4 linked regions of the Homo sapiens genome follow. The protein of the gene in region 2 purifies or fractionates together with the protein of the main gene of each other region. This does not show direct contact. Each region holds a gene or a part of one and is shown on either strand. Other genes may lie near its edges. The genes, in order: ANGEL1, FBXO10, PASK and FAT3.

Region 1 (5,939 bases), on a different chromosome or scaffold from region 2:
GACTTTTGGCAAGTTAGTTAACTCTCTTGGGTTCAATATCTCCTACTATAAAATGGGATAGGCCAGGCGCAGTGGCTCACGCCTGTAATCCTAGCACTTTGGGAGGCTGAGGTAGGTGGATCACCTGAGTTCAGGAGTTCGAGACCAGCCTGGCCAACATGGCGAAACCCCGTCTCTACTAAACATACAAAAATCAGCCGAGCATGGTGGCACACACCTGTAATCCCAGCTACTTGGGAGGCTGAGGCAGGAGAATCACATGAACCCAGGAGGCAGAGGTTGCAGTGAGCCGAGATCGTGCCATTGCACTCCAGCCTGGGCAACAGAGCGAGACTCTGTCTCAAAAAATAAATAAATAAATAAATAAATAAATAAATAAATAAATAAAATGGGATAATAATACCATGTACAATTAAGAATCTTAATAATCACTACCGGTTACTGACTTTGAGCCAGATACTGGAAAACACTTTACACGCATTATTTTATTTAATCCACCCAAAAAAACACCTCTGAGGCAGGTCCCATTATATCCCCCATCGTATAGATGAGGCAAATGGGGTTCAAAAAAGTTAAGTAATTTGCTCAAGGTGGCAGAGCACGGATCTGAACTCAGGACTGTCTGGCTTCAAAGCAAGTGCTCTCATTCACTATGCCTAACAGTGCCTGTCATGTGGCAGGCAGTCAGTAAATTCTTTTCCTCGTTCCCTGAGTTCCTTGATTACAGCTCCTTTAGGGCAAGATCATGCCTTTCTCTGCACACATCTGGCTCATTTACATAAAATCCCATGTGCGCAACAGTAATACAATCGTTTTGTGTCCTTCCACCATTGTGCCTTGCCAAAAGTTAGTCAATAAATTGAAACAGTAGGGGCAAAATAGAGGAACAAGGAGATTAAGTGACATAAAGAAATCAGCACAAGCTGATAAAACTACGAGGTGTTTGTCATCAACACTCAACAGTTAGAAGGAATGAGATCCATATGCAAATTGCTGAGTGAAAAAAAACAAGCTACAAATGAAACATACAGTAGTGTATCATGTTTATAAAACACACATGGTAGATTACATATTGGCTGTTATAAGCAATGACAGCACAGTATTTGAGGGTAAGAGCTCTGCAGCCAGACCACCTGGTTACAAATCCTGGCTCCACCACTAACTACCCGCATAACCTAGGGCAAATTACTTCACTTTTCTGAGCTTTAGTTTCCTCATTTATAAAATGGAAGCCATGATGGAAACTGTGAAAACTAATTAGTTAATGAGTATAAAGTGCTTAAAATAGCACATGGCACACACTTAAGTGCTTAACAAATGTAAACACTGATTACAATATCATAGGAACATAGATATCACTGTAAATGCAAAGAAAACAAGCTAAAAGACTACCACCAAACTTAGAACGGTCATTATGTTACTCTAAGAGAATAGAATAGGGAATGTGGGTAATAAAACAGGCCTGTGTCTTACTGTATAATGTTTAAGTTCCTTCAAGTATGTACTTACGTATTACTTGTGAATTAAAAATATTAATGATAAAAACTGAAAAAAATTCCAATATGCCGAAGTACTCAAGAATTCTTAACTTCCAGGCTTGGGTACAAGCTATTCAACATAACAAGAAAAAGGAGGAGCAGGCCAGAGCAGGTGTACTGAGGTCCCTGCCACAGAAGAAGCACTGATGCTAACGCCTGAATCTCTCTTAGACCATGTTCCCACCCACACCGTGGCCTCTCCCATTTCACCTTCCAGGCTGGCATCCCATGGTACTGGAGCTCTCCATCCCTGATGAAGTTGTAGAGAGGTGAATCAGGGACAGAATTTAGGTCCCCGCACAAGATGATGGGGCAGTGGCTGCCATCTGACAGTCTGGCCACCTTGTCCACTTCCGCCAGGAGAATGGCCATCTGGGCCAGCTTGACATCGCCCCGGCGTGGGTTGTAAAGGATATGGGTATTTGCCACACACAGCGGGGCCACCGAGACTTGTCCCAGGCCTTCTGGGACGAGTGGTTGCAGTAGCAACACTAAGCCCACATTATCCCGATTAAGTAGCTCCAAGCCAGGCCGGAAGTACTCCACAGGGCTAGCACAGAGCAGGCGGAATCTGGTAGGCTTGTAGCAGACAGCACAGCCATCGGTTTTACACCCAGTCCTCCTCTTGTAGAAACAGGTAAAGCCTGCAAGGAAAATCCCACCAAAGAGATGGGTCAGAGTCCTTAAAGCCTGAATCCCTTCCAACCAGCACCAGCAGTCCCAGTGTATGCCCCTGAGGCATTGTTCCTGCTACTCAGTAAAGGAGCCTTTGCCACTTCCTTGGTTCAGCAGGTTCCCCCTTACATCGTAACCAGCTGACTGAGGGGCTGGAAGGGCAAGGAGGGAAGGGTATGAAGCAATGTAACATGATAGAAAAGAGCACAGAATCTAGAGTCAGACAAGCTGGATTCCTAGCTCCACATCTACTAGCTTTGTAGCTTTGTGATTCTGAGGAAGTCACATGAGTTTTCAGAACTTCAGTTTCCTCATCTGTAAAATGGGAATAACAGTCTCACCACATTGGTTACTTCAAGGATCAAATAGCAATGTATGTCAGAATTGCTATAAAACTGCAGAATTCTACTTTCTCAGGCACACATGGAAGGAGCTAGCTCACAGGTGAAACTGAGGGTTTACTAAGACAAAAGGAAAGGATGGGGTCTTCAGGAGAGAGTAGACAAGTCTGTGGAAAGAAAAGCTGGCAAGCATCCCAGGGAGCTGCATTACCCATCATTCGCAGAGAGGGTTCCAGCTGCTCCCAGTAATGATCTTCCTGGACTTCCTGGAGACACAGGATCTGGGAAATTGACAAGAAACCCAATCACTCCAGAGTGCTGGAATGTGACCCCCACCCTCTAGGAGCAGGTCCTGAGGCCAGGTGGGAAGCTGCTGGGTCACACTGAAACTTCCCAGAGTCACCAACAGCAAGAACAGGCCCAGACTTAAGCTGAAGAGATTAGAGATGTGCACTGGATTTTCCTGCTCCTTGAATCCCTCAAGCCTCCCTTCCTGCATAAAGGTGCTGGGAAGTGCACATCTAGGGAGATTCTTCTCAGCATCTGCCAACAACTCACTGACACCAGGCAGGCAAGCTCCAGCCCTAGATAGGACTCCAATCATTTGAACAACTATGGGTTGAACTCATCTTCTAAGAGCACTGGGCAACAGCCCAGGTCCAGCAACAATGCAAGATGGCAATTCCCCCTCTTCACTCACATCAGGGTCCCAGTGCTGGAATTCCTGCATGAGGTTCACGAAGCGATAGTTCCAATTGAGGATGTCTGGATGGCAATGTAGATAGAGCTCTGAGCTCTGCTGCATCAGGTCCTGAGCCAGGATGTTATAAGACATCAGAGTGAACTGGAACTGAGGGCCATCTCCTGCCTTCAGGCCCTGAGCATCTGGCTGGGTGGAGAAATCCTCCCATTCTCGCCACAAAATTTCTGCAAAGGATTGGGAGAAGCACTCAATGGCAAGTATGAGTAATGCAGAGGTGCTGCCATCTCCACTCCTGACTCAGTAATATTATGCCTGAAGTTCCTTTTTCCATCTTCCCTGTCACCCATCCCTCTCTGTGGGGAATTGATTTCTATGGACATTCTTCAGATGACATGGTTAGCTCCACAAGGCCAGAGACAATCTTGGCCTGCTCACCACTACATCCCCAGCACCTAGCATCTAATAGATGCTCCATATATGGAAGCTGACACACTCTCATTTTTGATAAATCCATGAATCTCCGGAGAATCACTCAGATGAGTGTGCTTAACAGTCACCTGAGGTTAAAGACATTTTTAGAGTAATTGCAGCCCTGGGTGTTTTCTGACCCCTAAACCTGGAAGAGTCTGTGGGACTAGAAACTATGGTGTGTCCCCATCTCCCCTATGGCATGTGGCAGCATAGTGGATTTCAAATCTATTGACGCCATTCTTCAAATTTTAACGGACTCTCAATATACAACACAAATAAAACTGAGGTAATTGTGACTGAGACAGAGACTAGAGGCCCTGAGACCTCTCTATCCCTACCTCCAGAAAGCCCTAGGGTTACCACCAGAGAAATGACATTGTGGAGAATCAGAACTAGAGTATGCTTTCAGTTCTTCCCCTACCTGGCTTTATGACTTTAGTCATGTTCTACTACCTCTCTGCACTCTGATTATTTCACCTTTAAAACCATGGGGCTGGATGAGATGATCTGTAAGGACCCTCTAGATCTGACATGCCAAGATTCTTAGAAAAATAGAATGCAGTGGCAGAGCTCCCTACCATAGAATCTTCTCTTTAGCAATGGCTCTGCCCACACCTGAGACACCCTGTTCCCTTGGCTCACTCAACCAGTTGTCAGACTCACCATGATATGGTATTTCCACTGCGGGAGGCTGCAACTGCCCCAGGCCCTCAAAGGGCCAGATGGAAGCCTCTTCCTGGGGCACAGGCTCAGGTGCTATGCTCCAGGCCAACACCGCTGGGTCCTCTTCCCACTGCTCTGTGGCCAGGGCACCCACTGGGAGGGCAGCACAGTCTGCATACTGGGGCTCCGACTGCATGGGGATAGCTGCCCACATGGAGCCCTCCACCCCCTCCACCTCCAGCAGTGGCTCCTCTCCTAGCATCTCAGGGAAAGGCTCATCCAGGTTCTCTGCAGCCCGAAGGTCACTCAGCTGCCTGCTGGACCACCTGTCCTCTGAAGCAGCATTCTCTTCTCCAGGATTATCCATCAGAAGTGCCAGGCTGCTCTGGGCTAGTCCTTTATCTATAAGGGGCCCCTCACTTGCAGTTGAGAGCACCTGGCTCAACCCTTCTTCTCGCCACTGCTGCAGCAGGCCCTCACATTCCTCCTGCTCAGGGCCCCGAGGGGCCATGGCAAAGTCGCCCTCTACCTGGGGGGATGAGCTGTTCGCCAGAAGGACATTTTTTCGACATGTGAAGAAAGCATCTAGGAGGAAAGCCAAAATACCAGGTTATAAGACTGTCATCCAACCCACACTATTCTCCCAGCTAAAACATAAGCCCAATAAAAGCAAGACCCATATCCACCTTGCTCATCATTGTACCATCACTGAGCCTGCCTACCTTAATGCCTGAACATCATCATCATCATCAGGGCAAAGTATTCACTATGTGCCAGGCACTGTTCTTTACAAGTGTTGACTAATTTATATGGCAGGGATCTGATAAATATTCAGTGCATGAAAGAACAGCTGTCTCACATAATCTAGAACACAGATGGGCACATATACCCACACTCCTTTTACATGACTTAGTTAAGACTACTATTAACAAACTCTTTGGTTCTAAGAATCACATTACATTGCAACCAGCAACTGACTGTTAATCAGAACTGTGGGTTATGATCTAGCACCAAAATTAATAAAACTGACCTTGAACAATGCCCCTAGTCAGATGAAGTTACTCTTGACTGTAAAATGGGGACAAGAGGCCAGGCGTGGTGGCTCCCAGCACTTTGGGAGGCAGAGACAGAGGCAGCAGGATCACTTGAGGCCAGGAGTTAGAGACCAGCCTGGGCAACATAACGAAACTTCATCTCTACAAAAAATTAAAAATTAGCCAAGTACGGTGGCACATGCCCATGGTCCTAGCTACTTGGGAGGCTGAAATGAGAGGATTGCTTGAGCCCAGGTTGACGCTGCAGTGAGCTATGACTGCCCTTCTGCACTCCCGCCTGGGAGACAAAGTGAGACCTCATCTCAAAAAAAAAAAGAAAAGAAAAGAAAAAAATAAATTTTAAATTTAAAAAAATAGAGACAAGTTTGAACTAGATAATCTCTGAGCTTTTCTAGCTGTATAAATTCCCTAATCTATTAATGTATTCCAAAAGAAAAAGTCCTAAAGTAGACAGTCTCAAAAATCTATACAATTTACATCTTAGCAAGGGCCC
Region 2 (5,939 bases):
GATCCTCCTGCCTTGGCCTCTCAAAGTGTTAGGGTTACAGGTGTGAGCCACTGCGCCTGGCCCAGGAATCTGTTCTGAATAAGCCTTCCTCCATTTCCCGACCCACCCATCCATCCTACCCTCCCACCCCCACCCCACAGTGATTTTGATAATCAGGAGGCTTTGGGAGCCCTGGAGTTAGGTGAACTACACAGTAATTATTTTTTTTTAATTCAAGAAATATCAAACATCTTCTACCATCTTTTTTTTTTTTTTTTTTTTCCTTTTAAGACAGGGTCTTGCTCCTGTCACTCCTGAGCTCTGAGCACCTAGAATACCGTGGTGCAATCACACCTCACTGCAGCCTTGAACTCCTGGGCTCAAGCGATCCCCCCGCCTCCTGAGTAGCTGGGACCACAGGCACATGCCACCAGATCCAACTAATTTTTCTTTCTCTACTCCTTCTTCTTCTTTTTTTTTTTTTTTTTTTTTTGTAGAAACCAAGTCTTGTTATGTTGCCCAGGCGGGTCTTGAACACCTGGCCTCAAGCAATCCCCCAGTCTTGGCCTCCCAAAGTCCTGGGATTACAGGCTTGATCCCTGGCACCTGGCCTCCATTTTTCATCAGGTTTAGGATAACATGGATTTAAAACACTTTTATTTTCTGCCTCTCTAAGAAGGAAAACTCACTGCCAATTAAACCATGATATGCATCTCGTGGGAGATGTTGAATTTTGAGAAATGTATCCTAGAGTTGATTAAAAGCATGTGTGCCAGAGGTGGGATTTGGTACTGCAGGGACAGGGGCACTGAGCTGGGTGGGCTTCAGTTCTTTGTCTCAAGTTCATGGCCTATCAGTGTTGATGAAACAGCCACAGAAATAAATACAGTCGCGAGGCCTCATAACAAGTGCCAGTGGGGATGGGGAGGGCCCAGTTCAAAGGAGGAAGGAATGAAGGGGGATATTCACAACAGGTTTTGAAGTTCAAGTTAGTTTGGGACGTGTGGATGGGAGAAAGGCATGAGTGAGGTCAGCAGGTTAGGAGGCAGGAAAGAATGGATTCAAGTTTAATGAATAAATACAGGAGGATTGGGGATCAGGCTGGAAGAAGTGGCTGATGAGGCCTGAGGGCAAGTTGGGATCAGTCTGCAGAAGGCCCTGCCTGGCGGCCGCACCGTCTCAAAAATAAGAAGCACCTCTGCTCGGCCGCCCCACCGTCTGGGAAGTGAGGAGCACCTCTCCCTGGCCCCCACGCTGTCTGGGAAGTGAGGAGCGCCTCTCCCTGGCCCCCACACTGTCTGGGAAGTGAGGAGCGCCTCTGCCTGGCCGCTGTGCAACCCTCCAAGTGTGAAGTGGCAACCTTGTGTGTGATTTTTCTGCCCTACCCAGGTTTGCATCTTTGACATTAAAGTTTACTTTTAAATTTAAATTAAATTAAAAGTTTTAAATTGGAGAAAAAAAAAGACAGTGGGGAGCCATGGAAGGTTCTTGAGCAGGGGCTGAGGGGGTATACTCACCTCCATTGTGATTAATACTGTTAGACTCAACAAGAGCTATGGTGATGGGCCGGCGCAGTGGGTCGTCCTCCTTCTCCAGCTCTGTCTCCCAGAGGATGGCGTCCCCATCCTCGCTGAAGTTCTCTTGAGCCCTGTGGCCTCGAGGTAACTCGCTGGAGCCATCCTTCTGGCTAAATACTGCCACTCCATACAGGCCATTGTAGCTGACGTGGTTGCTGGTGACATGGGGGAGGCTGGACGACATCATCCACACACCACAGCCCTTGTTAGCTGGGACAGTGAGAGGAGCTGGTCACCGACACTGAACTCAGGTGAAGCGGCACCTGAGTCTCCCTGAGAGGGGAAACAAAAGCCACTGGCCTGGGAGAGAGTCCCTGCCTTGCTAATGACCTCGGACAAGCCACCTGATGGCTCTAGCTGCAGACTTCACCTTCACACAAGAGAGGTCATCAGGATCAGGTGAACCTCACAAGCTCGGCTCGTTCCACACAGTGTGAAAGTGCTCTGAGGACTGTCAGGCCACATGTCCACATCAGAAGCACATGAGCCCACAGTGACAGTGCCAAGGGGGCACCAATCCCTCCCTGCATAGGAGGCAGCCTCAGTTGGAATCCCAGCCCTACCACTTCCCAGCTGTGAGACCCTGAGCAGGTTACCAGACCTCTCTCTGTCCCTCAGTTTTCTCATCTTTTAAATGGGGTTAATAACCGTGCCTCCTTCAGAAGGCAGTCATGAGGATTAAATGTGATCATGCATAGAAAGGGCTGAGTAGAGAGGTGGGCCTGAGTCATCTTTATTATTATCACTGTATTATTAGAGATAGAGTCCAGACAGATGAAGGCTCTGCCCAAAGTCACTGCGTGAGTGAGAAGAGTTTTCTTCCTGTGATTATCTTGTTTTCCCATTATATTTTCCGTTCTCTGGGATCAAAAGAAAGGATAAGAGGAGTTAGATGCACATGAGCCAGGGCTGAAATGGTCCTGTCCTTAAGACATGACACAACTCCTGTCTTTTGCTATTTTAAAAGGGGATAAAGCCTTCTGCTTTGCTAACCCCACGGGGTCAATCTGGACTACAATGTGATTTGTAAGAGGCTCTTTGTTCTGGGAGGGCCTGGGTGACTGTGGCCTGAGAGTGCCTGTTCAGATGAGGTCTTTGAGGCACAGGGAAAGGCAGTGACCTTCTCAGGACCCACAAGCTGGAGATGGAACCTGGGCTTCCTGCCTCCCCGGCTGGGTTGGGAACAAGCTCCTCACCGTAGATGGTATTTCCTTCTATGAGGCCTTTGCCTTCGTCTCCCACAACCACACCATCTGAATAGCCAAAGCAGATGAGGTTACTCCTGAGAACGGGGATCCCTCCACGGCGGATGTCCACACCTCCCCACTGATTCTCACGGATGACATTTTCTATGGAGAGAAGCAGAAAAGAAGGTCAGTACCCAAGGGCCAGCTCCAGTGCTGGCAAATAGGACTTGGACAGTTTTGATCAAGGCTACTCCAGACCAGAAGGCCCTGGCCTTACCCTGCCAGCAATTAGCACTGTAAATCTTGTCTGCTGTCTGATGTTTCAGGGACTTATCTGCTGACTCCTTTCCCCAAGGGCAAGGCTTGTGTCTATCTTGTGCACTCCTATCTCCCCGGCACCTACTATACACCCAATGGCCTTGAGGACTGATGATTAAAAATGAACTAGTTTTGGCCAGGCATGGTGGCTCATGCCTGTAATCCCAGTACTTTAGGAGGCCAAGGCGGGTAGATCACTTGAGCCCAGGAGTTCCAGACCATCCTGGGCAAAATGGGGAAATCCTGTCTCTAAAAAAAAATACAAAAAAAATTAGCCAGGTGTGGTGGTGCGTGCCTGTAGTCCCAGCTTCTTGGGAGGCTGGGTGGGAGGATCACTTGAACCCTGGAGGTCAGGGCTGCAGTGGGCTATAATCGAGCCACTGCACTCTGGCCTGGATGACAGACTGAGACCCTGCCTCAAAAAAAAGAATAAACTAGCTTTGGTGAGTGACACTGGTGTCCAAAAAACCAACCAACCAAACAAAAAGGAAACAAAACAAAGAATAGGCCGGGTGCGGTGGCTCACGCCTGTAACCCCAGCACTTTGGGAGGCTGAGACGGGCGGATCACCTGAGGTCGGGAGTTCGAGACCAGCCTGACCAACATGGAGAAACCCCGTCTCTACTAAAAATACAAAATTGGGCGTGGTGGCACATGCCTGTAATCCCAGCTACTCGGGAGGCTGAGGCAGAAGAATCACTTGAACCTGGGAGGCGGAGGTTGCAGTGAGCCGAGATCGCGCCATTGCACTCCAGCCTGGGCAACAAGAGTGAGTGAAATTCCGTCTCAAAAAAAATAAATAAATAAACTGGCTTTAGAGTCCTCAGAGGCAGAATGTGGCCATTTACCCACAAGCCTGTGAGAAGGCGCTAGCCTCACCTGCAATGGCTCAGGAGTCTCTGTGTGACTGGCCTCTTCCTGTCTCCATGTCCCCACTGCAGGCCCCTTGTGCACCACACTCCAGTCCCACAAGCGATGTCCACTCGGCCATGCCAAGTCTGTTCTCACAGGCGGCCCTACACGGAAGGTTCTTTCCCAGCTCCTCCAGCCACTCCCACTCAGGGTCTGGTTTCCTTGTCACCTTCTCAGAGGGCTGCCCTGACCACACAATCCCAAATGCCTACCCAGTCCCTCTTTTGCCTTAATTATCCATAGAGCACTTGTCACCCTCAGATGGGATGTTTTTTGCTCATATACGTAGGCTTTTATTTATTTATTCGCTTCCTCTCCTAAAATGTCAGTGGCTGACAGCCTCGTTCACTGCTGCACTTGTAGCTCCTGGAACACGGCCTGTATACCACACGTGCTCAATCCATGTCTGATAAGTTCAGTCAGGGGGATTCCCTGGACCAGTATTTGCGGAATCCCTTTCATATCCCAGGCCTGGCTCTGCTCTGTGCTGAGGCTACATTGATGTACCAGATGGACTTGACCCTCACCTTGTGGAATTTACCACTTTATAACAGAGGAGACGGACACCACAAACCACTAAGAAATTAAGTCAAAGGCCCTAGAGAGGAGGCATCCTGGGTATAGTGAGTGTATCTGTGTACAATGGGGAAGTCAGGGAAGGCTTCCCTGAGGAAGTGACAGTTAAGCTAAGACCCAAAGGATAAGCAGGGGTTAGCCGGGCGGAGGTTTCCAGAGCAGGCAGAGGTCCGCACAAAGACCAAGAGGAGGGATTTGGACAGGTGGTTGGGCATCAGTGCTTCTGAAACTGTTCTGTGAGCCACCTTGTGAGGGCCTGTCGGCTCTGGGCCTGGAAGGAGCAGACACCCACTCTGTGTTAGGCCCTCCTGTAAGAAGCACAGCCACCATGCAGCTGGCGTCCCTGAGCTCCAGCCCACCAGTCAGAGAAAGAGGCCATAGTCTGTGGGGGTAAAGGAGCAGTGTGAGGTCCTGAAGCTGGGGGGTGACGCCAGGGGACCTTGGCCTGGCTGCCAGGTGCCAGGCAGTTCCCATCCGTACCTGTGATGAGGCCTTTGCCGTTCTCATTCACTGCTATGCCGGCAGCACGGCCCTTGAAGATGTGGTTCCCGCTAAAGTGGAAGGAAAACAAAACAAAGAGGTGAGCCCAGGGCATCAATGTCATGCTTCCAGGAGACTGCCTTCTTTCATGGAAACCCTGTCTCTACAAAAAATACAAAAAAATTAGCCGGGTGTGGTGGTGTGCACCTGTAGTCCCAGCTTCTTGGGAGGCTGGGGTGGAGGATCACTTGAGCCTCCCTATGGCTCAAGTCCACAGGGGCATAAAAGCATTTCCTAAAGTCCCTTTATAAGCCAGGCATATAGAAATGTTTAGTTGTCACTGGGACAGCTTGACCAAAAACTAAACCCCCAACTATGCTATACACGCACAATGATATCCAGTTCACTGTAGCCTCACTTGACTGTCATCTACATATATACCCATGCATATATATATACATTTTTTTTTTTGAGGTCTTGCTCTGTTGCCCATGCTGGAGTGCAGTGGCACAATCTCAGCTCACTGCAACCTCCACCTCCTGGGTTCAAGCGATGTTCGTGCCTCAGCCTGGATTACACGTGTGCGCCACCACATCCAGCTAATTTTTTGTACTTTTTGTAGAGATGGGGTTTTGCTACGTTGCCCAGGCTGGTCTCGAACTCCTGGCCTCAAGTGACCCATCCGCCTCAGCCTCCTAAAGTGCTGGGATTACAGGCATGAGCCACCGCGCCTGGCCTTATATGTATTTTATCCAACCCTCAAATGTTTGAACCAGAAAATGTTTACAATTTTTTTGTTTAAGACATGGGTTCTCGCTATGTTGCTCAGGCTAGCCTCAACCTCTTGCACTCAAGTGATCCTCCCACCTCAGCCTCCCAAGTAGCTGGGACTACCAGCATGAGTAACTGA
Region 3 (5,939 bases), on a different chromosome or scaffold from region 2:
TTCACATATGAGGGCTGTCTCTAATGCCAGCTACTATCCTGGGGGGTTTACATATATTATCTCATTTAAATGTTGAAACAATCTTATGAGGAGTTATGATTATGCCCCAGTTCACAGGTGAGGAACTGAAGTATAGGAAGTTCGTTCCCTGCCCAAGCACACGCAATCAGCGAGGGTACCACTGGGCAGACCCTCCAGGCTCCTCATCCTCTCTTTCTTCCCAAAGGAATGAGACAGGGACCAGCACTTGCTGAAGAGGAGAACGACGCCGGCTCCAGCGTCCATGAGACATGAGGCAAAGTTGCACACTCACATCGCTCTGGAAAGCGACCCAGGTCGAGACCCTCTCCACGGGCTCCAGGACCACCACGCAGCATAGGCGGCGCTCCTGCCGCATCCTCTTCATCCACACAGACACTGGAATCTTCTCCCCACTACGGCTGATGATGTCCACCTGTGGAAACAGACAGGTTCACACCTGCATGCCATGAACCCAAAAGACCAGTATGGGTGGGGCACCTGCCTCCAGGAGGCCCAAACTCCAGGCACTGCAACGTTTTCAACTTCTGCTTACCTGATTTTCATTTCAGAAATTTACCAAAGCACAAACAAGATTTCCCATACTGAACATTAAAATCTCCAAGTGCAAGTTTTATCAAGAGAGTAGATTTCATTCTCAGTTCATGGTAATATTGCAGGGTGAAAAAAGCAGTATCTGTTATTTCTTAAAGAAACAGACACCAACACATGGTGAATATCTTAGTTTTTTTCTTCTTAGTAGTCAGTTTCTTGAACCAGTGATTTTCTGATACAATTGGTCCTAAGCCTGTGACATCAGTTCAGTTCAAGCAATGGGGTCTTCTGTGTGAAAGCCACACACTAGGTGGGAAACAGGCAACCTGGAGGATCTGGATGACTACTAGAGCCTCAGATCATACCCCAACCTCCACTGCCCTCCAACGCTACTCCCCCAGTCCCCGACCGGCTGACGAGGGGAAACCCTACAATCAGCCATGCCTTGGGCTTTTTCCATGCCTTGGGCTCAGTCCTCCACATCCAACTCAGCTCACCTGTCAACATCCAGGTTGGACACATGGCACAGGTGAGAGAATCAACACTGTCTAGGGAAATGCTTCCAGGCCAACACCCCCGCCCGCTCCCACAAACACCAAACAGAATGTAAAAATCAATAGACAATAAAACCATATTACTCTTGAGCATCTGATGTGCTGCCCGGCAGGACTGCAAAACATTAGTGAAGCTACAGCCCTCAGACAAAGCAAGGGCCACCCACGACACCTCCCAGGAGTCCAGCCACAGCCACAGTGTCCATTCCTGCGATGATTCGTTCTTAAAGGGCCCCCACCCCCACTGCAGCTGAAGCGGGGAAACGGCGCCTGGGATGACATTTTCAGCTGAAGAAGCTGAGATGTCCTGGTGCCACCCAACCCCCAGCAGAGCTCCTGGTAGGGAACACTGAGCTGTTCCTGCCACACACTGCTGGTCTTGAGGCCAGACTGAACGCTGCACCCGCATCCACTCACCACCGTGCCAAACACCACCGCAGCGTGGCCGTCGGCCTCCATGTGCTCCTCGCTGAGGGCCTCCACCACATCAGAATCTGACCTCAGAAAGAACTGCGTGAGCTTCTGGCCAATCAGGTCCTGGCTGCTGTACCCCAGGAGCCCGCAAGCTTTGTCGTTAGCAACCAGGATCTGAGGAATCACAAAGAGGAGCAAGGATGCAGACATCCCCAGCAGCTCCACCAGCTGCCCAGAACAGCCCAGGACGACCATGCAGAAGCCAGCCTTTTCCTGACAGACAGGGTCTCACTCTGTTGCCCAGGCTGGAGTGCAGTGGCGCAATCAGAGCTCACTGCAGCGGCGCAATCAGAGCTCACTGCAACCTTGAACTCCTGGGTTCAAGTGATCCTCCTGCCTCAGCCTCCCTGGTAGCTGGGACTACAGGTGTGTGCCACCGCACCTGGCTAATTTCTTTGTAGAGATGGGATCTTGCTATGTTGCCCAGGCTGGTCTTGAACTCCTGGGCTCAAGCAAACTTCCCACCTCCCGAAGTGCCCAAATGTTTTTCTAATTGCATTAAAACACACAAATCCCAGGTTTAAGGCACAAACCACAAATCCACATCTACACAGCTGGATCTAAAAGAGAAGCAAATACCTCTGTGGTCTTGGCATCCACCGTGAAGATGGCCTTGTTAGGGTTGCACACAGGGGCCGGAAGCAGAGGTGAGGACCACCCTGAGGACAGTCCCCGCAGCAGGGAGCAGCAGGACACACTGCCCCGCGGTTCGGACGGGTCCGTGTGCTCAGGGGCAGCAGGGCAGTGCAGTTTACTTGTACAAATATTCTGGGCAGCCAGTGATGATAGACAATAGGAGCTCCATCTGTCTTCTGAAAAGAGAAGCGAAGCGAAGCTTTAGACTTCACACAGCTGCCAGAGTCCACCTTCTGAAACAGGCAAAGCACACAGCCCTTGCCCTCAACTCCTGCAAAAAGATCTAAGGATTAAGTCAGTCTGCACAGCTAACACACACTCTCACTGCGTGTCTGAACATGGTCCCCAGAATCCACTTAGGCAACCACCAGGTCCACTCGGAAGCACAAACAGCATAAGATCAACACTTCTGTGTCTAAATTACACTCAAAGCCAGGCGTGCCTATAATCCCAGTTCTTTGGAAGGCTGAGGCAGGAAGGTTGCTTGAGTTCAGGAGTTCAAGACCAGCCTGGACAACACAGCGAGACCCTGTCCCTACTAAAAATAAAATTTGTAAAAATCAGTTGGGCATAGTGGCGTGCCCTTGCAGCCCCATCTACTCAGGAGGCTAAGGCAGGAGGATTGCCTGAGCCCAGGAGTTTGAGACTGCAGCGAGCTATGACTGCGCCACTGCACTCCAGCCTGAGCAACAGTCAGACCTTGTCCCAAAAAACAAAAAAGCTTAATTACACTCAAAGGTTCCTTCCTTCCCACCTTCTGTCCTCTGTCAGTCATTCCAAGACCCCATGGCCACTCCGGTGGCTGCCCCGTCACCTCCTCCTTGGAAGCGTTCCTACGATTCAAGAGCTCCTTGTGCAGCGTTCTCTCAGCAACGCCTCCAATGGCTCCCAAAACCCTCAGCCCCGTCATTCCTCAGGCCTCACCCTCCTCCCACACCACCCTCCTCGGGCACCTGGGCTCCCCCACCTCCCACCTCTCAGTGACCCTGGCTCCATCTCACCCATTCCTCGGTAGCTTTAAATACATCTAATTAGAAATGCACTGAAGACTCTCACACTCGCACCTCCAGCCTGGACCTCCCACGGCCCACTCGCCTGCTTCCCCATCTCTGGAGACACCAGATACATTCTTCCAGTGCTCAAAACCAAGCACTCAAGACCTGACCCTTCCATTTCTCTCCCATCCCCTCCCCTCCATGTCCTCCAGCCAGGACCCCTGACTTTCTCAGTGAGTGGCCTGACCCCGACCATTCTCTGAGGCTGGAAACCACGTGGCCATCCAGCCACTCTCGCCCCTGCTCTTCCCCAGACAGCAGTCACCAAGCGCAGCTCCTTCTCATGTCTCAAGGCCCTGTACCTCCGGCTCCCACCCCTGCTCCTCATGCAGCCACCAGAATGATGCTCCAAAAAAGGAACACACCTGTCAACACTCACTGAGAACATTCCTGATCAGCGCCTGGGTGAAGCCCACTCCCAAGGGCGCTGTGTGCCTCCCAGCCCACCCCTCCCTGCAGTATCCTGGGCACTCTCCACAGGGCCCTCCGCTCTACACCCTCAGACACTCCAGTGCACAAGCTCAGCTCCAACACCCTCCTACTCCAGTGTCGAAGTGCTCCTTGACCTGGAGACCAGACTCCCAGCCACCATTTCCCGCAGCTCTATGCCCCACTTCCCCATTTTCCAGGTCTACCCCAACTTCAAGCACACAGCCTGCTGTCTCCCCAAGTGCCTCCATCAGACAGCCCCTGAAAGGCAAGTGACGCTTCCTTCCTCACCATGGCCCAGTCCTTTGGGGTGCCTGGACAAAGGAGGCACCAACGGAATCTGGACATAGGAGGCACCAACAGACTTCTGCCCCATGATTCTTGGTCCACCAGCTAAACCGCGTTTAGCTCAGTAAACTGCACGAGCAAAGCTGCAATTCCCTAAGTAAAATAGCCTAACCTAGAACAGCGTTCTCACATACTCTAAAGTAAGAAATAACATTTTGTTGTAACTTGACCCTGAAATGTGAAGGTGAGTTCCACCTGCTGCCTGAAAAGAAGCGCCAGCTGCCTGGGAATCACAGCAGAGTAAAAGCAGCAGGAAGGGTCCTGCCGGAGTCATCTGCCAGCATGAGCCGAGCACTTAAACCACGAACTTTTCTCTGCAGGAATAGAGTGACTTCAATCCCTGGTGAGAGGGTTTCCATGAGAACACAGAGCAACTCCACATTTGTATTTCCACGCGCTAAGGCCTGCAGTGGTCGAAGGTCATTACCAGAGAGCGCTGTCCTGCTCTGGCAGAGTCTGGAAAGCCCATTCCTTCTGCTCAGGTGTCTGTGGGCTGAGGAAAACGACCTGCTGGGCTCAGCAGTGGTCTGTGCAGCTGGGCCCTCTGCTGACACTGGCAAGGGGAGGCTCTGGGAAAGGCATCTCTGGTCCTCTTCAAAGGCTGTTAAGCCCCCGTCCTCCATGGGAAGAAGGGAGGCCAACTGCCAAGCTTCCAACTCTAACAACTAGAAAACAACATGAAGCTGATTAACATCTGCAATGCAAAAACACAAAGACAGTTTAACCAACTAATTTATAATGCTGAGTTCAGCTCGGCCCCAAAAGACATACACCACCAACCGCCATCCTGGGTCAGAACCCGCAATGGGAGAATGGTCCACCCAAAGTGGTGCTAAAAGAAGCTCTTTCCGGGCCAGGCACGGTGGCGCACGCCTGTCATCCCAGCACTTTGGGAGGCTGAGGAGGGCGGATCACGAGGTCAGGAGATCGAGGAGATCGAGACCATCCTGACTAACACTGTGAAACTCCGTCTCCACTAAAAATACAAAAAATTAGCCGGGCATGGTGGCGGGTGCCTGTAGTCCCAGCTACTCGGGAGGCTGAGGCAGAAGAATGGTGTGAACCCGGGAGGCAGAGCTTGCAGTGAGCCGAGATCACACCACTGCACTCCAGCCTGGGCGATAGAGAGAGACTCCATGTCAAAAAAAAAGAAAAAAAAAAAGAAGCTCTTTCCAAGAAAAATACATAGGAAGATATGGGAAAGAGGGAAGGAGAGAGAGAGGAAAACAAAGAACAGGGTGGGAAGGAGCCATGAGGGAAGGCAGGGACTGCAGGTACACACCAACTGAAAATACTCCCAGGTCATGATGAACCCATCAGCACGTGGGGGCTGCACAGCTCCCATGGTCTCAGCTTTCCCCTAAACAGTGAGTCCTGACCATCCGACCAGCTGTGCACAGAATCACCTGGGTGCTGCCAACAAGTGAGGTCGCGGGGGCCATGGCCAAGAGGCCATGTCTCCTAGAGACAGGCCTGGCACCAGAGATTTGTATTTTTAGCTTTTCTCTTATACATGATTCAAATGCTGATACAGGGTGGAAATACAGGAAAATCTCACATACTCTTCCGAGTTCCCTCTCATGGTGACATCTTACAGGAGAGTGTCACAGCCAGGAAACTGACTTGATACCATCCATCAGCCTCGTCCAGATTTCAAGGCATTTACCTGCAGGTGTGTGTGTGTGTGGGTGTGCGTGTGTGTCCGTGCGTGTGTGTGCGTGTGCACATGTGTACATGAGCGTGTGTGTGTGCGCGCATGTGAGCACGTGTTCCATGCAGTCTTGTCACATGTATACATTCATGTGACCACCCTGCAGAGTGGAGATACTTAAGAGTTCCATCCTGCATATTGGCAAGCACTTGAAACACA
Region 4 (5,939 bases), on a different chromosome or scaffold from region 2:
AGTCAGAGTTGAATGCTTCCTTTAAAATAACATTCCCTGAATTAGGGTTAATTTCAAAGTGGCCATAGTCATCCTGCAGGACATAGGTCACTTCTCCATTTGGACCTTTATCTTTGTCAATGGCTGTCACCTGATAAATCAGAGTCCCGGGTTCCGCATCCACTTGAACAGCAGCATAGTATGGGAGGCCCACAAAGACTGGAGAATTGTCATTTATGTCTTCAATGTTAACCCTGACCACCACTCTGGCCACACGCAGATGGTCCAGCTCACGGCTGGCTTCTACCACCAGCTCATATAACTCTTGTTCTTCACGGTCAAAGGGGACTCCAGTCGTCTGAATGACCCCTGAGGTAGATTTTATCTTGAACTTATTTCCTGGGTTTAAGATGCTGTATTTTAAGGGCTCATTAAGGCGATTTCCAACTGCATTGACAATAGCAACTTTGGTTATGTTAGTGTTGTTCTCTGAGATTGAGGTGGAATAGAAGCTTTGTGTAAAGTGGAGGCCGCTGTCCATGGCTTCTTTAACCATGATGGTGACCATGGAGGTACTGTAGAACTTTCCATCAGACACCTTAACTATCAGCATGTAGTGATCCTTGGAGAGGTTGTTGTTTTTTATGGTAAGTACTCCACTGTTTGAGTCAATTAAAAAATGATCCAAACTGCCTTCCATTAGGCTGTATGTCAGTTCAGGGGGTACCTCAGAGTCAGGATCTGTGGCACTAACTTTCAGAACCTCCACTCCAACATAGGTAGGTAGAAGTAAGATAGTCTCAAACACAGCCTGAGTAAAAACAGGTGGGTTATCATTCACATCTGTCACCTCAATGTTGACTTCAACGGGACTCTCTGCAGTCAGTTGGGGGCTACCACTGTCTCTCACATGCACATGAAAATGGAAATGGGCAATGGTTTCATGGTCCAGGTTGGCAATTGTTCTGATTGCACCTGTACTGGAGTCCACCGTGAAAAACTTTTTTGCTGTTGACTCCACAATCTGATACACAAGCAGAGCATTCCGGTTGCTGTCAGCATCTGTGGCTCGAATCACCAGTGGGCTGTTATCCAAGCTCCTGACAATGCTATTAATTGGGGCAGCCTCACTTAGGCTGCCTGAGTATTGAGAAAAGAGAAAAACTGGGGCATTATCATTTTCATCAACAATCTGAATATTGACTGTAGCATTGGAAGCCATTCCTGCCATATTGGTGGCCTGAATGATGAGTTGATAAGAGGATGTGCGCTCATAATCCAGGGCCTTCTGAGTGGTGATGACTCCAGAATATGGATTTATGGTAAAGATCCCATTAATGTCTCCATCTTTGACTTCATAAATGAGGGTAGATTGACTGATGGCAGAGATTAGAATGACTGATGTTCCAATGTCAACATTTTCATTTACTTCTGCTTGGTAGTCTTTGTGAATGAACTTGGGGTGAGAATTGTCAGACATGGTGACGGAAATGCGCACAATTGCAGTAGCAGACATTGGCGGGGATCCCTGATCTGTGACTTTGATGGATAGGACAAACTGACCCATCGTCGTCATGTCTGGTTCTTTGCAAATGGTGATGATGCCTAGGACCGGTTCGATCTTAAACATGTTCCCAGTGTTCCCTAAAATACAGAAATCAATGGTGAAATGAGTTACATGTGGGTCACTGAAATCTTTTTGATTAACTCTTTATCTATAGGTACCTTACTGCAATGTGGCAAGTAGAAAGCAATTATAGTACTCATCTGTGTCATTCTGAAATAAAATGAGAGGCTTCTCTTTCAGGGGTACTGAAAAGGAACCAAAATGAGTTTCCCAGTATTATAGTAAATTTCAGATCAGTAACTTCTAGATCCAGGTTAAAAACACAATGACAATGACACAGTCTTATGTGCATTCAAGTTGGGAAATAAGAGAGCCCGAAGGAGAGATCTTTCTGCTAAGAATGTATAGGACTTCCTTATTTCCAGCCTTGTGAGAAGACAGATAGATTGGGAAGCCCACATATGAATGCCACTGGTTTAGGTAGCAGTGTCATATTTTCTGTTCTAGGTTTAAAGAAAGAGGGTTGTGGGAATAGTTTCAGAGCATTATAAAGTAGTCAGTTGTTTTCTGATTATCCCAAAAGCAAACTTCGCTACATGGAATTGGTATTATTTCACCCTATCAAAAATGACTTTATCCAAAACACTACTTTGGTGAAGGGGTTTGTTCAGTCAGGTGTGGAGAATTCTTGGCAAGTCATTATTTGCCTTGTAAGTGTGATGAATTTTCCTGACTTCTCTTCTATTCTCCACTCATGCTCTACCCCTCTCTCATGCTTCTGAACACACACATGCACACATCTAGACATAAAAGTAAACATAAAAAGTTATAGGGCAGTTGCTCAATCTGTAACCATTCTATTCACCAAGCATTTGAGGTGTTTCTAGTGTACCAAGAAACTGTTGGGAATCTGAACCAGCACTGCAACCAAGAACCTGAGACATAATCCTTGTGAAACTGAAACCTGGGCACCCCACTTTGATAGAGCTGGCAGGGGAAGGGCTCTGGCCATGACACTGTAGTAGTTTACAGCTCTGCTTCAGAAACATGTTGTGGTTCGAAATCTGGGATTGTTGAGAATGAGAGAAATAACAGAGGAATAAAAAATGGGGAAGACACAATGTGGAGTATGTAAAGAAGGTAGGTGGTGACAGAGCTGAAAGGCAGTGGGTAGTGTGAAGTTGCATCCCTCACCAAGTTGCTTTTTGCTTCTCTTATCAGGCTTTCTCATACTTCTCAAAGAACACATATACTTCTGTGTTGAGATCCTTTCCAATCAAAAGTTAAAGATCTTGGTTATTCAACTCTATCTGGACTTTTCTTTCTGAGTATTGTAGTATGATAGGTATATAATTTAAATGTTAAAATCATTAAAATAGGGACCAGGATTTTCAGGGCAGTTATGAGATGTGTCTACATACCTCTTCCTACATGCTAATTATATAAAGTTTTCCATGTCTGAACACAAAATGGTCATGTTCATGTAACATCTATTTCAAGAAGATACTTGCTTATTTTAAAAGACAAAGTATATCTAATAAAGAGGTCATTTTGATTCCAGCCCCCCCAAATGTGAATATTAAACAATGTTGTCTTTGATGTCGGCATGATTTATTACTTTGCCACCTAAACATGGCCATTTTGTGATGACAATAATAAAAAGTTCAATGATCTTATGAGTAAACGTTCAAGCTTGCAATGAATAGTGTCATAGAATTGAGTGTGAATCCAACAGGTGATCCACAGAACTTTATAAGGGGAAATCACTTCACCTAAGCAATGGTCACCTTCCAGTGATGGCACCAACATGCAACCCTGACTGATGAATGCTACTGGAGCCAGGGATCTCGGTGTTCACTGATTATGGTGCCCGACTGCAGAGTTTCTAGGTAAGTCCTCCCTCACTCCACACCCGGCAGATTTCTTCATGCCCAGAAAGATAGATTATGGTGGGGATGGCAGGGAGCCAGCTTTTGACCTCAAATATAATTTTTTGTTTTTTTTTGAGATGGAGTCTCGCTCTGTCATCCAGGCTGGAGTGCAGTGGTGCAATCTTGGCTCACTGCAACCTCTGTCTCCTGGGTTCAGGTGATTCTCCTGCCTCAGCCTCCAGAGTAGCTGGGACTGCAGGCAGGCACCACTACACCTGGCTAATTTTCATGTTTGTAGAGACGGGGTTTTGCCACGTTGGTCAGGCTGGTCTCAGACTTCTGACCTCAAGTGATCCACCTGCCTTGGCCTCCAAAAATGCTGGGATTACAGGCACGAGCCACTGTGCCTGGCCTCAAGTAGAAATTCATAATCCTGCTATCCCATGGCCGCTGATCTGCTTGTGACACGCTTCCAGAATGGTGTGCTGATACATCAGGTCCAAAGTGGGCCCTTCTCCTCTTTCCCTCTTTGACACACTGACCCATTCTCTTGGAATCCACTTCCTGCTTATTCTTTCCTGCTACACTTGAATCCTGAAAAATTGGCCTCTGTTTGTTTTTTGGAATCTATGGCCTCTTGTAGATTTTTGGCAATTGAATAAAAGCTGTGCTTTTCTTATCATTCCTTATCTAGTACACAACACAGCATCTGCTACAAAGAAGTTGCTTAATATTTGTTGAATGATTGAGAGGAGAGGTAAATCTAAAAAAAATATTTTAAACTCTCTATTCATATGCATCTTGGGATCCATATGCCCTCACCCGAACTCAACTCAGTCCCAGTCTCTCTTGTACAATCCTGCCTCAGACTCACCATTGACACCAAACACAAAACTCAAACTAGATATAAGACCTGAAGCTCTGCACTCAAATTCTGCCTCAGTCCTTCAGGCCAAAATAAAAAGCTTCCGTAGTTACTTTAGAGGACAGGCAGGAGACAGGAAATTTATAGCCCACCAATAAACAGAGTGAAATCTTGCTTATCTGATGTGTGTGAGAAAAGTTAAATAAAACATAATACTTTACACAGCCATTTGTCATTTGCTTCAAAGTGCTGAAGCATCTGGGATCTGCCTGTCTCCCACCCTCAACTGGGAAGAAACTTGCTCCTCTAGGACCAGTGCGGACCAGTGTGGGTTTGTCTGTCTGTCTGTGAAGAGCCCTGCTGGTCATTTGAGATTTATTGTGAACATTGTAATCCTCAATAGTTTCTTACATACAATCAAAGGTCATTTTTTTTGCGATATCAATTGTTCCCATGGTTTTCTGGAAGTTTGGGTTTTCTTTATGAAAGATGTTTTAAGGAAATAACTGTTCTGTCTTGTTTTAGTCAGTTAAAGAAACGACTGGGCACCATGCTGTAGTCTGTAGAGGTCAAAAGATAAGCAGAGCAGTCTTTTCGGTTGGATGGTAAGTTAAATTACTCCTTAAGAAACTCCAAACTGGTTGAAACATTATCTGGCTATCTAAAAGGAGTATAAGTAGCAGGCTTAATGACAAATATAAAAAGCAGGTAGAGACACACAGCTAATGTTTAGAACATGGTAAGAAAAGTAGAAATAAAACCCTATATCTAAATAATTACAGTGACATGAAACAATGTATATGCATGAATGAATACGGGGAAAAGAAAAAAACACAACATTGGAAAAAACCATAGAAAGAATAAAAAGAGTTGTTGGGTTAGGTGACATTTTCTGGGATGTGATTTAAATATTCATTTTTTGGAAAAGTTTCCTTATATTATTTGTGGAACCCAAAGAACAAAGATTATATAATTAAGTAATAAAAATGTCCTGTGAAAAATAAAAGATGTAAAATAGCATTTCTAAAAAAACACTGGTCAGGCTTTAGATTGAAAGGAAATTCCATGGAAACCTAGAAAAAAAATAGGTAAATTCTCTCCGGAAACTTTGCTATTATGAACTCATGTCTTTTCTTTTTCTTTTTTTAAGTAGAGCTTAGCACAGACCCATGTAAAATGTGGGTGCCTAATACAAGAAATAGTTCTAAGTTATCATTCAATGAAAGAACTTTTTTTTTTTAGAAGGTTGTTGGCTTTTCTTTTTCTAAAATTTCTAGTCCAAAACTGTCATTCTAGCATTCATATTTTAATTCAACTCCTCTCAAAAATGCTCTACATTTAAATGAAAGGAGAGAAGTCTTTCCATCCCTGGCATGAAAGGATATTGCATTTGGCATTATTCACGACAGACATAAGTTGCAGAACATTTTGAAAATAGGTGGCTTGAATATTCAAAAAAGATGGAATGGGGAGGAGAACATAGAGCAGATAAAGGATATTTGTCATTTTTAGGTTATTTCTTGCTTAGCCATTCATCTCTCAGTCATAAAAGCTTTCTAGCTATCAGTCTTCAAACCATCAGTAAACTATGATCTTACCTTATAGATGTTAAAATTAATTTTAAAACATCTCAAATTTAACAAAACAAGAGCCTGTA

The links.
Region 1: the proteins of FBXO10 (region 2) and ANGEL1 purify together in Homo sapiens (affinity purification with mass spectrometry; one large-scale study listed by BioGRID and IntAct). This does not show direct contact.
Region 3: the proteins of FBXO10 (region 2) and PASK purify together in Homo sapiens (affinity purification with mass spectrometry; one large-scale study listed by BioGRID and IntAct). This does not show direct contact.
Region 4: the proteins of FBXO10 (region 2) and FAT3 purify together in Homo sapiens (affinity purification with mass spectrometry; one large-scale study listed by BioGRID and IntAct). This does not show direct contact.

Annotation. Positions count from the first base shown.
Region 1 is NC_000014.9:76,804,668-76,810,606, forward strand, and holds part of ANGEL1 (protein angel homolog 1), read right to left. Parts: intron 4,977-5,939; coding exon 4,392-4,976; intron 3,482-4,391; coding exon 3,255-3,481; intron 2,836-3,254; coding exon 2,766-2,835; intron 2,183-2,765; coding exon 1,749-2,182; intron 336-1,748; coding exon of another isoform or gene 218-335; intron 1-217.
Region 2 is NC_000009.12:37,520,073-37,526,011, forward strand, and holds part of FBXO10 (F-box only protein 10), read right to left. Parts: intron 5,101-5,939; coding exon 5,030-5,100; intron 2,906-5,029; coding exon 2,753-2,905; intron 2,417-2,752; coding exon of another isoform or gene 2,385-2,416; exon of another isoform or gene 2,274-2,384; intron 1,767-2,273; coding exon 1,497-1,766; intron 1-1,496. UniProt on the Homo sapiens protein: Substrate-recognition component of the SCF (SKP1-CUL1-F-box protein)-type E3 ubiquitin ligase complex. Mediates the ubiquitination and degradation of BCL2, an antiapoptotic protein, thereby playing a role in apoptosis by controlling the stability of BCL2.
Region 3 is NC_000002.12:241,138,341-241,144,279, forward strand, and holds part of PASK (PAS domain-containing serine/threonine-protein kinase), read right to left. Parts: intron 4,735-5,939; coding exon of another isoform or gene 4,693-4,734; coding exon 4,497-4,692; intron 2,414-4,496; coding exon 2,181-2,413; intron 1,716-2,180; coding exon 1,545-1,715; intron 455-1,544; coding exon 314-454; intron 1-313. UniProt on the Homo sapiens protein: Serine/threonine-protein kinase involved in energy homeostasis and protein translation. Phosphorylates EEF1A1, GYS1, PDX1 and RPS6.
Region 4 is NC_000011.10:92,793,520-92,799,458, reverse strand, and holds part of FAT3 (protocadherin Fat 3 isoform 1 precursor), read right to left. Parts: intron 1,624-5,939; coding exon 1-1,623.